Regions from separate parts of the Homo sapiens genome. Here region 2 is linked to region 1. The links come from fine-mapping of genetic effects on plasma protein levels. A gene starts in region 1. The other region holds a variant in brackets. All regions are shown on one strand. Distances are between the middles of the regions.

What was found. PIP is the chance, under the fine-mapping model, that this variant and not a neighbour inherited with it causes the effect. The UK Biobank Pharma Proteomics Project read protein levels with antibody pairs (Olink). The fine-mapping took linkage between variants from a reference panel, not from the people measured, so its PIPs are less certain.
Region 2: its variant is fine-mapped to the plasma level of the LAMB1 protein (UK Biobank, PIP above 0.99).

Annotation. Positions count from the first base shown.
Region 1 is chr7:108,002,191-108,005,190 of GRCh38, reverse strand. LAMB1 (laminin subunit beta 1) reads left to right here and starts at 2,030. Exons shown (of 34, transcript NM_002291.3): 1 at 2,030-2,080; 2 at 2,220-2,342. The coding sequence starts at 2,306.
Region 2 is chr7:108,098,062-108,100,561 of GRCh38, reverse strand. LAMB4 (laminin subunit beta 4) reads left to right here. Exons shown (of 34, transcript NM_007356.3): 11 at 1,980-2,159. Among named protein-coding and RNA genes, the nearest start is that of LAMB4, 31 kb to the left of the region's middle. The variant T/A (reference allele first, on the strand shown) is at 1,101.

The DNA.
Region 1 (3,000 bases):
ATAGATGAAGTGGTCAGAAGGTGAGTGTTACACACACTCCTCCCCCTGCACATATACAGGCAAATTTTTAAAAACCTAATTTTCTCAGTAGTGTTCAATTTACTACTGCAAGTGAGGTGATCAGGAGAGCAGGTAGGCTTCTGAACAGTGCTGAAAGTAAATGACCTTTTGCAAGGGGAGAGGACGCTGAGCAGGGACAGGTAGCAAGGAGGGCTCAGCTGCTGTGAGAGCAGAGGTTAGGCTCAAGAAAGAAAAGGAGCTGAAAGATGCTTGCAGTGTGTGCACATGAAAATACGAAACTCTGGCCCAGGGTATTAAAAGCTCAACAGGAAGAAAAGACATTTGCCTTTTAATATTTTTCTTTTAATTAAGCCCTGAAGACCCTCCATTGCAATTCTACAGCCTCCCAACAGCAAGGACTTTCTCAGCGCTTTCAGGCTACCCAGCCGGCGCAGAGGATCCTAAGCCTCAGCAGAGGCAAAACCTCCCCAGGCTGTAGCAGGGCAAGTGCTGATTTGGTGAATAATTAATGCCTCACTCACCTAGACCCCAAGGCTCCCGCCTGCCTCAGACTCGTGCAGGCTTACGAACTCGTAAAGCAGCTGACTCTATGGTCTAATGATTAAACTTCTCTGGGCCTTATTTCGTTACAGCTAAGTTAAAAACTGACCAGCTAGCCGCTTAAACTCTTCTCCCGGAAATGACTGGAAAACAAGCCAAGTCTCCTGACTGGACTGACAACTAACTATACTCCCTGAATTCCAGCCACATTTGCCCAGAGCAGGACTCCAAGCTTTGACTCTGTCCATTGCTAAGGGTAGCAGAATGGGTGGTGGGGTCCCGTCACCAACCTCTTTTCCCTCTCCAACCCCTAGAAGGTGGTGAGTTTCTATGTACCCCTAATTTCACCAGGCAGGTTACACTGTGTTGTTAGAGACCCTTCATTAGAGGCCCTCTCCCCACCTCAGCATTTGCACACCATGGAGAATCGTCGAGATGAGCGTTGTGGGGAAGTGCCTCTCATGAGAGATTTCCACTTCCTGGCTGTGTCAACTCTTCCACGGCGAGATGGGAAACGGAGTCAGTAACAATAATAGTGTCATTTGAGGAATTACCTGAGCTAAAGCCATCATCTGGATATAGGTAGGAAGATTTTTTTTTTTTTTTGAGACGTAGTTTTGCTCTTGTTGCCCAGGCTGGAGTGCAATGGCACGATCCCGGTTCACGGCAACCTCCTTCTCCCAGGTTCAAGCGATTTTCGTGCCTCGGCCTCCCGAGTAGCTGGGATTACAGGCGCCCGCCACCACGCCCAGCTAATTTTTGTATTTTTAGTAGAGATGGAGTTGCACCATGTTGGAAGTAGATTTTTTAAAAACAGAACTGGACGTTCAATTCAATGCCGTGACCACCTGGGTAACAGGGATTACAGATAGGTCCTGAATAAATGTGTGCGCAAAGAATTGCAGGGCGCACAGAGCTTCTCCTCCTTCCTAGGAAGACACTGTAGATGTCGCGCCCATCCCAAGCTCTTGGATACTAGGGGCGGAGAGGAAGTGTCACTTTCTAAAGAACAAACACGACAGGTCGACCCTGTTTCTAAAGGGTTAACCCGCCTTCCCCGAGCGCACCGCACGAGAGTTTTAGCCGTGGGCACGTTTGGTGATTCACTTCTTGCGAACGTAAATGCGCGAGTCCGCGGTAGGTCCCGCCGGCCCCCTGGCTGGGCAACCTGAAAACCCACCTCGGAGACGCCCCCACGCATCCGCCCCCCTCGCTGGACGGCCCCGCCGCGCGCCGTTCTGGGACGCGCACCCCGGGGCGGACCCGCCCTGGGACCTGGAAGCGCCCCAGCCCCGCAGCGATCGCAGATTCGGCTTTCAAACAAAAGAGGCGCCCCGGGGGGTGGGACCGGGACCTCACCCGGTCCTCGCAGAGTTGCGGCCGCCCGCCCCTTCAGCCCCGGCTCTCCGTATGCGCATGAGCAGAGGCGCCTCCCTCTGTTCCTCCCAAGGCTAAACTTTCTAATTCCCTTCTTTGGGCTCGGGGGCTCCCGGAGCAGGGCGAGAGCTCGCGTCGCCGGGTGAGGAGAACAAAGTGGCTGCACGATTTTCCCCACTTTCCAGCCCACCCCCCGCTTCCGTGGGAGCGACAGGAAATGGAAGGGCGCCTCTTCTCTCTTTGAACATTTGCCTTTTTTCCCCTCCTTTCCACCTCTCCAGAAAGGAAGACGGGAAGAAAGGGCAGGCGGCTCGGCGGGCGTCTTCTCCACTCCTCTGCCGCGTCCCCGTGGCTGCAGGGAGCCGGCATGGGGCTTCTCCAGTTGCTAGCTTTCAGTTTCTTAGGTAATTCCGTGGAAACGGTGCGGGGAGGCGGACGGACTTGGGCATGGGGAAGGAAAACCCAAAAGCTGCTTGCTCACCTTCGTGGGATCCTGGGGGCTTGGGAGAGGGACTGGATGGAAATGACGCCCCTGGGATTAAACGCCACCGCCCTTGCTTCGGTGGTGGCTGGAGACAGCGCACGCGGAGCGCCGCGGACCCTCATCCCCCGGGCTCTGCGCCCAAGCCCCGGCCCCTGCGGCCTCCCGCGGCCCCCGCTCAGGGTTTTGCACCCTCGGCCGGTTCACCCTGGGTTTCCCCACCGCAGAGGGCAGGTTCCCTGGGGTTGGCGGTGCTGACCGAGGAGGGCTCTCCAAAAATCCATTGCCCAGGAGAGTGCCTGAGCTGAGCGGAGGCTTCATTCTGGGAACAGATGGGGGCCATGTGGCTTTAATTAACCATCTCTGTTTGTCTCCGGATGGCACCAGAAACAGCAGGACCTGGCGCTTCCCTGGAATGGAGAAGCCTTGAAACCACTCCAGAGCCCCAGGGACTGTCCATGGGCTCCCCTAGCTCCGGAAAGCGGCGTCCACCGCGAGCCCCGGCGCCTCGTCCCCAGCGAAGCGCCGGTGACCCTCGCGCGTGCACGCACACGCACTCTCGCTTCCCAAGCTCACAGATC
Region 2 (2,500 bases), 96 kb before region 1:
TGAAAGTAAGAAGTCATTCTTTGTAAACAAGGAATTTTTCCATAAAAGGTAGATGAGGAGCTTGTAACAAACTACTATCATGAGACACCCCAGTTTCTCCCAGTTTACCTAAACAAATGTTTATGTGTATATATACAAATGATGTGTATTTGAAGATTGATTAGAATTCTCATATAAATTTTCTCTAAGTTGTCCTTGTTTGAACCTAAATATTTACATAAGCAGATTCCAGGCATAAGAGTTGACTAATTTTAAGTTTTCTACAATTAAGTTGCCATTAAATTTGATACAGAAAAACCAAGATTTGGTAGACTCAACTACTTGATAATAAAAGTTTGCTAGAATTATGTGACACCAAGACATTCAATTAGACTTCTAAAGGTCATGACATAAGGCTATTTCAAAGAACATTTACTATCCACCCTTCCCACATCTCTTTCCCAAAGGATACTTCTGTGCATAATTAAATTATTCTCTGGAACTCAATACTGATTCTTTGGAGTGTCTCCCAAAGAAATTGTAGCTTTTTCCTTTTGGCCACTATTAAGATGAATCCAGTTTGTTCCCTTCTTTCTAGAAGCAACTGGCTTTAATTAGAAGAAAATTGTGGCTTTTCCAAACTAAACAGAACTCAATGCTATTTTTTCATAGTAAGTCACCAGTCACAAAACAATAACAAGTAACAAATCATTGAAATTTGAAAGATTGTGTCAGAGAGCAAACACCAGTTGCTTCAATAATGCGAAACAACTGGTTTGACTGAATTGTTTCCACTAAACTCACTAACCTAAATGGTGGTTATATAGACATGGTTTTAGACTTGACAGTTTTGTTTTTAGTAATCCAAAGCAAGCATGTATAAATGTGAATGTGACTGTTCCTTAAAATCAGGATATTCATATTTTTATTTTTATTACACGCCTTAAAAGTGGAACCCCATGGAAACACAGAACCACAAAGGTACAAGAGACCTTGGTGGTCATCTAATGCCCAACAACACATTTGTCATCCATACCAAAGCCACAAGTGCTGTTTCAACATCTACCTGGACACCTCCGATGATGAGGGGTTCGCTGCAGTATTGGGCACCCCTAACTATT[T/A]GAGAGTTCTTCCTCAAACTCAATCAAGTGCTACCTTTTGTGACTTCTACTCTCTCCTGGTTCTACCCTCTGGAATTAACTCAAACTGTCAACATTCTTTTTCATATGACACACCATCCTTGAGTTGTTCAAATGTCTACAACAACAACAGGAAAAAGGTTGCTACCATTGTGGCTCCTTTGCTGCAAGTGACTGTTTATCCCATTTTCCAGAATCTCTTCCATCAAGCTCTTGACCTGTCAGCAGATTTCCCCCCAACAAAACCAAGGATATGAATACTTCTCACTATTCCCTCCCTTTCCTTCTTACAGGTGTTTCTTCCAGGAAAAATAAAATAGAATGTCACTTTTCCTTGTGACATATTTTTCTGTGATAGAGGAGAGACTTACTTTTTAAGCACGTTTCAGAGATTTTGACCTTATTTTCACCTTTAGAGTCTTTTTTAAAATCTATTTTTAGATGAAATTCACATAACATAAAATATTAACCATTTTTAAATGAACAACAGTTCACCAGCACAATGTTGTGCAGCCATCCCATCTACCTAATTCCAAAACGTTCTCATCATCCCCAGAAGAATCAGTCTATTCTTAACATAATCTAGTCTTAATTTTCATAACAGCAGTCTTCCTCTGGTCCTCTGACTTTCGAATCATTTAAAAGTCTTTTAAAAATATATGCATGGATTTATTCAACGTTTTCCAAGGCTAGAGATCTGGGAGACATTTCTGAATAGCTCTTGCCAGGTGGTCTAATTATTTAAACATTTAATTATTTAAACAAAGCAAGATAGTTATAGCATGAGTAAAATGCCGTGCTTATATTTCAGGCTTCCCACAATTTGCAATTAACTAAAACAATGAATGTCTGTGTCCCCAGCTTGTGAATGTGACCCCGATGGGACCATATCTGGTGGCATTTGTGTGAGCCACTCTGATCCTGCCTTAGGGTCTGTGGCCGGCCAGTGCCTTTGTAAAGAGAACGTGGAAGGAGCCAAATGCGACCAGTGCAAACCCAACCACTACGGACTAAGCGCCACCGACCCCCTGGGCTGCCAGCGTAAGTCCATAATCGGGGGTCGGGGGAGTGTCCATCAACCCCTATGTGGTTGGTTGGTTTGTCTGTTTTTGAGATGGAGTCTCGCTCTGTCGCCCAGGCTGGAGTACAGTGGCAAAATCTCGGCTCACTCCAACCTCCACCTCCCAGGTTCAAGCAATTCTCCTTCCTCAGCCTCCCGAGTAGCTGGGATTACAGGCGACCACCACCACGCCCAGATAATTTTTGTATTTTTAATATAGACGGGGTTTCACCATGTTGGCCAGGCTGGTTTCAAACTCCTGACCTCAAGTGATCCGCCCACCTCGGCCCCTATGCGTTTTAAAGCTTGGGGCTGTCTCTGT